3 linked regions of the Homo sapiens genome follow. The protein of the gene in region 1 purifies or fractionates together with the protein of each later gene. This does not show direct contact. Each region holds a gene or a part of one and is shown in the gene's direction. Other genes may lie near its edges.

Region 1 (3,659 bases):
GAGGCAAGAGGATCACTTGCACTGGAAGGTCAAGGCTGCAGTGAGTCATGATCGTAATTGTACCACTGCACTTCAGCGTACCCTGTCTCTACAAAAAATAAAAATAAATAAATAACTTATAGTCTTCATAAAGAAGCAAGTAGATAACGTCTTTTAAAGAACTTTCTTCCAATTAAGAAAAATATTTCCTGTTTTCCCAATTCCTTGATTTAGATTCCTAGATTATATTGTATCAAGTCCCAGAGATTTGTTAATCTTTGCTCCTGCTATCCCAAGACTGTTGATGTAGTAATGTAAAGAACTCAAACATAAAACCTGTTGAAAATTAAACCATCACTTTCTGCGTTTGACCCAACATACTATGTATCCAGAAATACATACATAATATGAAATTATTATGAAATCCAGAAATACATACATACATACATATTATTCAGAGTTGCAAATAATTTTCATCTGTTGTTTCATGAGTATTTTTATTATTTCCAGGTTCGATGGATGATGTACTGGATTGTTTTTGCTCTCTATACTGTGATTGAAACAGTAGCCGATCAAACAGTTGCTTGGTAAGTTTTACTATTGAGAAGGGGCCAGACTACAGACTCATAATCAGGTGTCCTAAGTTCTTATCCTGCTCTTGCTATTAACTGAGTGATTTTCATCAGGTTACCTAATTATCCACCCATTTGTTTTTGTCATCTGCTTTCCCATAGAACACTACTTTCCTTTTAGTCCCCATCAAATAAAGGCAGCTCATTTTCCTCCCCATACGCCGCTCCCTGCTCACCTCCCACACACCTTCCCCCAGTATCTTGGAATAGGGAAAGTTGATTGTCATCATCCTTTTCTGCACTGATGACTTCAGAACATTTTCCTGTATCACTTCCTAAATGACTCCACTTTTGAAGCCCACAGCATCTGGTTTTAGCACCCCTCCCTATCCTATCCTTAAAACTCTCATCTACAAACATTTGAACTGGAAAACGTCAGCACCCACGTGGACACCCACTCAGCACTAGCTTCCTGGCTGCTCTGTTCCAAATAGACGAGGCAAAATTAAAGTGTGTTTATATCCTCAGGGATTTGACATTTTACCAAGGAGCAGTACTTAACTGGACAACTCAAATCTCCCTGTGGTGTATTTCAGTAGTGCATTTCCATCTAAACCCTGCAATCACTTTGAGAACTTCTCCTTTCAAAATATTTTGGTTTACTACCTTGCTGATATCTTCATCTGCCCTTGACGCACAAACCTTCTGTCTAAATTAGCCTAACAATTACTCGTCTTTTTTTTCTTTTTTTTTTTTATACAAGGTCTTGCTCTGTTGCCTAGGCTAGAGTGCAGTGGCACGATCTCGGCTCACTGCAACCTCTACCTCCCGGGTTCAAGCGATTCTCCTGCCTCAGCCTCCCGAGTAGCTGGGATTACAGGCACATGCCACCATGGCCTGGCTAATTTTTGTATTTTTAATAGAGACGGGGTTTCACCATGTTAGCCAGGCTGGTCTCGAACTCCCAACCTCAGGTGATCTGCCTGCCTCGGTCTCCCGAAGTGCTGGGATTGCAGGCATCAGCCATTGCACCCAGCTAAAATGACTCTTTTTTACTTCTTTAACTGGGCTGCTAAATTCAGCTGAAAAAATTAATCAGCTGCTCACATAGGTATCAGCTTGAACCTCATTCTTTTTACTTGCTCCTGGTCAGTGTCTACTTACATTTTGTCTGGGTCTGTTTCAAACCTTTACTATTCTCTCCTTAAGCTGTCTTTCCCATTTTGCTCTTCTCCTGTTCATGTGGCACATTAGGTCCTATTGGATTTGCAAGAAAAAAAATAGAAGTCTTCATACTAAAATATTTTTAACAACCTTCCCTTATTTGCAAACGTCACTGTATCTGTCTTCTGATTTGAAATACTGTAAAAATTTCCCTTCCTGTGCCCCAAAGCTCATTCATTTATCTGTTATATTTTTGGTATAGGGGTTTGGTTGTGGGGGGTCTCTTTGTTTTTAAGTGACAGAGCACAGATCCCCAACCGTGCTACATCGAAGTTTCCAAGTTCTCTTTTTAAGACTTCATTTTTTTCTGATTGCAAATGTAGCCTATATATGTTATTTAAAAATGAACGATGTAGAAAATGTTTAACATGAACAACTGAATCCAGAAACTCCTGTAATTGCAGTGTGGCAGAGACCTCTTTGTTGACTACATAGTAAGTCATCCTCACTGCTCTCTACCTGCCCACCTTGACAGAAGAACTCAAATTTGCTCAGCTATCATTTATCCTAGTGATAAATGGACTACATTTATGTGGTTCTCACAGACAACAAGATACTGAGCCTCTCATTATATATTAGTGAACTTTTGCTGTGGCAAAAAAACAACCATAAAAGTACAGTGGCTTAGAAAAGCAAACTTTTATTTCTTGCTCAAGCTACATGAGGGCAAATGGTTGACTGCATCTTTGCTGGGGTCAGGTCACTTTTGCTGTTGTTTCTGTTGTTGTTTTAGAGACAGGGTCTTGCTCCATTGCCCAAGCTGGAGTGCAATGGCATGATGATAGCTCACCGCACCCTTGAACTCCTGGGCTGAAGCAATCCTCCCAGTTTGGCCTCCCAAAGTGCTGGGATTACAGGCGTGAGCACCTCACCTGGCACCTTAAACCAAGGCTGAAGAAGCAGCTGTTCTCATGCCAGAAGGCAAAAGCTTAAAGCAAGAGTTTGAGGGTAATGGGTAATGGAGTGAGGGAGTCGAAGGGTGTTCTAAAGCTTCTGCTTGCATGTGACATGTATCATGTTCTTTTCTGCTGGCCAAAGCAAGCAAGTCACATGGTTAAAGCCACAGTCATTGGTTGAGGAAGTATACTGGGCCAACGGGGGAGGCCCACTGTAACACTTTGTATTTTCCTTGGAAGTGAACAGTTTAGGTCTGCAGAGTGCTGCAATTCTGGCCAAATGAAATTGGAAGGGATATTTTTTCGGAGTTCTGAAAAAGATGAAGACGTGTGTGTATGGGGTAGACATTGTGCACTTGGAGCATATGAAGTCATTCTCTGATAGGCACAACTATCATATGAGATAGGTCATGTACTTCCATGCCAGTTTGGCTCTGCAGATAGGGTGGCCATACCTTGTGCACTGGATAAATGGTATTAGTGCCTTCTCTTAACTGCTGCATTCAGTTTGGCAGCTTTCCTATGCTTACTACAAAGGAAGATTCTTGTATTAGAATGAGGGGGGAATCTCTCAGGTCACACATTCATGAACTGATCTATAGTTGAAACAAGATTATTCAAACACAGTTGTCTCCTGATCACTGACTTTTACATTCAAAAACTTAGCATAGGCTGGGTGCTGTGGCTCACGCCTGTAATCCCACCACTTTGGGAGGCCGAGGTGGGCGGATCACATGAGGTCAGGAGTTCAAGACCAGGCCTGGACAACATGGTGAAACCCCGCCTCTACTAAAAATATGAAAATTAGCCAGGAGTGGTGACGTGCACCTGTAATCCTAACTACTGGGGAGGCTGAGGCAGGAGAATCACTTGAACCCAGGAGGCGGAGGTTGCAATGAGCCGAGATGGTGCCATTGCACTCAGATGACAAGAGCAAAACTCCATCTCAAAAAAAAAAAAACAAAAAACAGCATAGTGACTGAACTTT
Region 2 (3,659 bases), on another chromosome or scaffold:
CTCAACTGGGATCAATTCCTTTTTTGTGCTTAGAGATGGTAAAATGATTGTTCATCATAGCATTAATAGTAGGAAATTATTTATTTATTTATTTATTTATTTATTTATTTTATTTATTTTTGAGACAGAGTTTTGCTCTTGTTGCCCAGGCTGGAGTTAAATGGCAAGGTCTCAGCTCACTGCAACCTCCACCTCCTGGGTTCAAGCAATTCCCCTGCCTCAGCCTACCGAGTAGCTAGAATTACAGGCGTACGCCACCATGCCTTGCTAATATTTGTATTTTTAGTAGAGACGGGGTTTCACCATGTTGGTCAGGCTGGTCTCAAACTCCTGACCTTAGGTGATCCACCTGCCTCAGCCTCCCAAAATCCTGGGATTACAGGCACGAGCCACCGCACCCGGCTAAATAGTAGGAAATTAGAAACAACTTAAATATACAATAAAAAGGGTTTAGATAAAATTATGATAGTTATGTGCTAAAATAATTGCTGTCATGAAAAGTCAAATGCTGAACAACGATATGGAAAAATCAACTTGCATTGTATCAAGTGAAGAAAGATAACAGAGAGCACATACCACTTTTGACCTCCTGATTTAGGGCAACATAAGAATCTTTTTTTTTTTTTTATTTTTTTTTTTAGTATTTATTGATCATTCTTGGGTGTTTCTCGGAGAGGGGGATTGGCAGGGTCATAGGACAACAGTGGAGGGAAGGTCAGCAGATAAACATGTGAACAAGGGTCTGTGGTTTTCCTAGACAGAGGACCCTGCGGCCTTCTGCAGTGTTTGTGTCCCTGGGTACTTGAGATTAGGGAGTGGTGATGACTCTTAACGAGCATGCTGCCTTCAAGCATCTGTTTAACAAAGCACATCTTGCACCGCCCTTAATCAATTTAACCCTGTGTGGACACAGCACATGTTTCAGAGAGCACGGGGTTGGGAGTAAAGTTATAGATTAACAGCATCCCAAGGCAGAAGAATTTTTCTTAGTACAGAACAAAATGGAGTCTCCCATGTCTACTTCTTTCTACACAGACACAGTAACAATCTGATCTCTCTTTCTTTTCCCCACATTTCCCCGTTTTCTATTCGACAAAACCGCCTTTGTCATCATGGCCCGTTCTCAATGAGCTGTTGGGTACACCTCCCAGACGGGGTGGTGGCTGGGCAGAGGGGCTCCTCACTTCCCAGATAGGGCGGCCGGGCAGAGGCGCCCCCCACCTCCCAGACGGGGCAGTGGCCGGGTGGAGGCGCCCCCCACCTCCCTCCCGGACGGGGCGGCTGCCGGGCGGAGGGGCTCCTCACTTCGCAGACGGGGCGGCTGCCGGGCGGAGGGGCTCCTCACTTCTCAGACGGGGCGGCCGGGCAGAGACGCTCCTCACCTCCCAGATGGGGTGGCGGTCGGGCAGAGACACTCCTCAGTTCCCAGACGGGGCCGCGGCTGGGCAGAGGGGCTCCTCACATCCCAGACGGGGCGGCAGGGCAGAGGCGCTCCCCACATCTCAGACGATGGGCGGCCGGGCAGAGACACTCCTCACTTCCTAGACGGGATGGCGGCTGGGAAGAGGCGCTCCTCACTTCCCAGACTGGGCGGCTGGGCGGAAGGGCTCCTCACATCCCAGACGATGGGCGGCCAGGCAGAGACGCTCCTCACTTCCCAGACGGGGTGGCGGCCGGGCAGAGGCTGCAATCTCAGCACTTTGGGAGGCAAGGCAGGCGGCTGGGAGGTGGAGGTTGTAGCAAGCCGAGATCACGCCACTGCACTCCAGCCTGGGCAACATTGAGCACTGAGTGAGCGAGACTCCGTCTGCAATCCCGGCACCTCGGGAGGCTGAGGCAGGCAGATCACTCGCGGTCAGGAGCTGGAGACCAGCCCGGCCAACACGGCGAAACCCCGTCTCCACCAAAACATGCAAACACCAGTCAAGTGTGGCGGCGCGCGCCTGCAATCCCAGGCACTCTGCAGGCTGAGGCAGGAGAATCAGGCAGGGAGGTTGCAGTGAGCCGAGATGGCAGCAGTACAGTCCAGCCTTGGCTTTCACAACTTTGGTGGCATCAGAGGGAGACCGGGGAGAGGGGGAGGGGGAGGGGGAATCTTTTTTTTTTTTTTTTAAGTTTATTTTCTTATTATAGAAACTTATTCTCAGGAGAAACATGCATATGTATGAGATTATTCTAATTTTGTAAAGATATAAACATATACCTTTAAAAAAATCTTCAAAAATACACGAGAATATAAATAAAATTGGTGTCATCTGGGTATTGAGGTTTTCTTTATATTCTTTCTGTGTTATAATTTTTAAATTTTTTAAATTATGAAATATAACTACATAAGTATATATATGTACAGTTTAAGGAATAATAAAATGAACATCCATGTATTCAGCCTTCCGTCTTTTTTTTTTTAATACCTTGCTGAATTCAGTTTGAGGCTTTTAAAAATTTTATATTTTTACATCTCTATTTATGAATGCTGTTAGCCACCTTAGGTTACTTTTTATCCCCCATCCTTATCTCATTTGGATGTTAAAGTTATATTAGCATCATAAAAAGGGAGTCCGATGTTGGACATTCTTATTCTGTTGTATGCAACCTGAATTATTCAGAGATTTCTAGGGTTTTATCTCTCCCTAGTATGCTGCAGGTTCACTGTTGTGGATCAAACATGGATCATTTTTGTTCATTCTGCTAAATCAGTATTTATGATAATCAGTATTTATCATAAATACTGATTCAGTAAATACATAAATACTGATTCAGTGGGCCCTTGAATCTAAAGATTTGTCTTTAGCTCTAGAAAACATTAATTTCTTTTGAGTATGACTGCCCCACATTTCTTTTTGTTTTCTCCTTGTGAAATTTGTATTAGATAGATGTTGGAACTTTGGGACATATGCCTGCATGTCTCTGTATACTTTTTGTTTCTTTGTTTTTGGCTAACCTTCTGTGAGCTTTGTTCAACTTTATTTTTTAGACAAGGAATTGACAATTTTTTTCCTGTAAAGGGTCGGATATAAATAACTTTGCAGTCCACAGTATTGCAGCTACCCCACTCTGCCATTGTAGAATGAAAGCAGCCATATGCATATGTATGCAATATGTAAATGAATGACTGCTGGTGTGTTCTAGCAAAACTTCATTTACAAAATTAGGTGGTGGCCATATGGGCTATATATAGTTTGCCTATGCCTTTTTAAATGGCTGATTTGGGGCCAGCCTTATCTTTATTATCCAGTCCTTCATATGAATTTATTTTGGCACTTGGTGTTTTTATTTTTCAAGAACTTTCTTTGTTCTCTTATTTTTTTTTCTTTATTCTCGGCCTGGGATTTCTTCTTTTTTTTTGAGATGGAGTTTCGCTCTTGTTGCCCAGTCTGGAGTGCAATGGTGCGATCTCGGCTCACTGCAACCTCTGCCTCCCAGGTTCAAGTGATTCTCCTGCCTCACCCTTCCGAGTAGCTGGGATTACAGGCATGCGCTACCACGCCCGGCTAATTTTGTATTTTTAGTAGAAACGGGGCTTCTCCATGTTGGTCAGGCTGGTCTCGAACTCCCGACCTCAGATGATCTGCCCACTTTGGCCTCCCAAAGTGCTGGGATTACAGGCGTGAGCCACTGTGCCCGCCTTTATTTTTTATTTTTATTTTTGTTTGAGACAG
Region 3 (2,820 bases), on another chromosome or scaffold:
AATGTATTATCTTGTAAAACTTATGTAAAAAAAAAAAAAAAAAAAAGGCAAAGATACTAAAAATTTTAAGTCCGACTTTATTTTTCCTACAAGTGTTTAGAAATGCTTCTGGGATTTGCTAATATTATCTGTCCTTGGGAACAGTATTGAAAAAACTGCTTAGTGGTATTACAGCTTTAGCAAACCTACCTCACAGCTGGGATGAGAGGATAAAATACAACTAATTTTGTACCCTATAGTGCCTAGAGCAGTCCAAGTGCTAAATAAATATTTACTGATTAAAACCAAACTATAGCTACTCGGGAGGCTGGAGGAGGATCGCTTGAGCCCAGGAGTTTGAGGCCATTCTGGGCAATATAGCAAGACCCTGTCTCGAAAAAAAAAAAAAAAAGAAAAAACCAAACTAACCAAAACTCTGTAAAAGAGTGCTTTGAGCTCTACAAATACCAAGTATTTATTGTGGTATATTTTTAGAATGTAGCCATACAGTGTAATTATGGGTATCTGTCATGGATCACAATTATTATTCATAGTAAGTCATTGTGATACAGAAGTTTGTTTCTTCACTTCCCCTTAAGAAGCCAACTATAGTAATCATGCAAAGTTGAGGAGTATGTCCTTCAGGGATATAAAAAGAAAAACAAATCTGTTTTTTGAGCTAAAAGAGCACATCCAAACAAGAATTTAACTGGCTAAAATTTAGTAATTACTGTTAAGTAACTATCAAACTTGAAATCTTACAAGATAAATGGTTAAGATGTCTTGAGTATTTGGGATGGGGGCCTGTGAGTCTGATTGAGACATACATTTTACAGAGTAGCAGCACTGGAAAGGGCTAGTCCAACCTCCCAGCCTCTGCTTGGGTCTCCGCTGCCCCAGCCACACACATCCTAGAATTCTTGTAAACATATCTGGCTCTGTGTTAACAGTCACTTGTTATATGTTTTCTAAGAGATTAGTTCTTCCTGTGATTTTTCCAAGTACGCTGAAAGTAGTAGTATGAACTTAAGGAGGCTAGTCAAAGAAACTTGGAGTTATAGGTATTTTTAAAGAATAAATCCTCAATTCCATCATCACTTGGCGGGGAGGGGGCACTTATTAAGCATTTTAGATAATAAAACTGGTTAAGCTTACTCTGGTAGAACAGACAATCAAATCTGGGGATTGCTGAGAACAATAATAAGCTGAAGTATGGCTCACAGAATCCTAACACAAATCATTAAGTCTCTAGTTAGATTTGTTATCCTAAAATTTTTCATAGAATTTTAAAATCTAATTCTGACTTGTATGGTTAAGAAAAGCAGTTAAATATTTTACTACTTATCAAGGGCTTTTAAAATAAATAAATCTGATTGATAGGAAGAAAGGCAAATAAATACCTATGTAGACATTCTATAATAACAAAGAGCCATAGATGATAAAGGAATTAGATTTTAATGTAGAATGGGTGGTTTCTGAAACAAAGGTATGTGGTACTTTGTAGTTATTGATGAGAAGCCAGTAACCAGTAGTGTTTTCCTAGATATATGCCCACCCTCACACAACTTTCTTCATTAACAAACATTAAATATGCATTTGTATCTTATTAAATTATATTGTATAATGCTGAAGGAAAACAAAAAGTGTTCAAATAATCATAACTTCTACATTACAGGTTCTGTTTAGATGCAGAACTAGAGGGGCCAGGGTAAATGTAGATAAAGAGATATATAGCACCATGCTTCTTAATGCTTCATACTTTTGCAAACAGAAAAAAAAAGTTTTACTTTTATTATAAAACTTCATCTATGGTCAAAGTAAACACTGTTACATTTAAATTGCTTTTTAAAAACAATTGCGATCTAAAAAGTCAAAAATCTGAAATTTAATAATATGAGACTTACACTGAATATAATGTTCATTTAGAAGTTGCTGTGGTCCACTTCATTTATAAGGAACAAATATTTTTACAGTACACTATAGCAACAGCAAAAGCCCTCTCTCACCCTGATAGGAATGGGTTTGCTGGGTGTCTAGAAGTTAGATTCCTGCTGAATAGAATTAGCCATCCTTAAAAGATTTTAATCCAATACTGAACTGTTTATAAAATGCTTTCTCTATTGTAATGTACTGTAAGTAGTGAAATTCTGTATATACTGCTATTTTCTGTCTGTTCATTGTTGTGAACTTCTTATGTATATTAGTGAAATAAATTTTCAGCTTTCATGTTGTTTCCTAAACATTCATAAGTATAACTAACTATTAAGAGATTTCTTCCTTTCTTGAGTAACAAATTTGGTGATTATATTCTTTCTGATCCAACCCCAAAAACTAGCTATTCTGAAAAGGCTGATGTTCACTAATGGGAAGAATGAAATGACCCTTCACCTCTTAAGGGAAACAGGCCTCCGCCATTCCCTTTCAAAACTATACTTCTTTTACTTGATACTCAAAACTTCTGCACCAAAATCAGTCAGTATTTTTCCAGAATGCCTTTATTTTCAGTATCATAGAATTTAAATACAGAGTCAAAAGATGATTTATAAAATATAAAACATTTTCTGCTTGGCCGTATTTGAAGACAAGCTGAATACATATCTATGTTCTGAATAAGTCCACTATGGATATATATAGGAAGAGATATACATATATCCATCCACAGATACACACACACATATATATTTCTGCATGTATATATACATAATTCTTTCTATAGTTACAGGAAATACTTCTTCTATAATTCTGATTTTGACTCCCATCCTCCACCATTTACTCATCCACTCATTACCTAAATCTTGGCTTTCTTTCCTATATTGTAAATAATCCATCCAAACTTCTAGC

The links.
Region 2: the proteins of REEP3 (region 1) and ZC3H11A purify together in Homo sapiens (co-immunoprecipitation; one large-scale study listed by IntAct). This does not show direct contact.
Region 3: the proteins of REEP3 (region 1) and RAB3GAP2 purify together in Homo sapiens (affinity purification with mass spectrometry; one large-scale study listed by BioGRID and IntAct). This does not show direct contact.

What each region holds. Positions count from the first base shown.
Region 1 is NC_000010.11:63,594,289-63,597,947, forward strand, and holds part of REEP3 (receptor expression-enhancing protein 3), read left to right. Parts: intron 1-489; coding exon 490-566; intron 567-1,715; exon of another isoform or gene 1,716-1,808; intron 1,809-3,659. UniProt on the Homo sapiens protein: Microtubule-binding protein required to ensure proper cell division and nuclear envelope reassembly by sequestering the endoplasmic reticulum away from chromosomes during mitosis.
Region 2 is NC_000001.11:203,840,530-203,844,188, forward strand, and holds part of ZC3H11A (zinc finger CCCH domain-containing protein 11A), read left to right. Parts: intron 1-3,659. UniProt on the Homo sapiens protein: Through its association with TREX complex components, may participate in the export and post-transcriptional coordination of selected mRNA transcripts, including those required to maintain the metabolic processes in embryonic cells.
Region 3 is NC_000001.11:220,147,678-220,150,497, reverse strand, and holds the end of RAB3GAP2 (rab3 GTPase-activating protein non-catalytic subunit), read left to right. Parts: 3' UTR 1-2,205; downstream 2,206-2,820. UniProt on the Homo sapiens protein: Regulatory subunit of the Rab3 GTPase-activating (Rab3GAP) complex composed of RAB3GAP1 and RAB3GAP2, which has GTPase-activating protein (GAP) activity towards various Rab3 subfamily members (RAB3A, RAB3B, RAB3C and RAB3D), RAB5A and RAB43, and guanine nucleotide exchange factor (GEF) activity towards RAB18.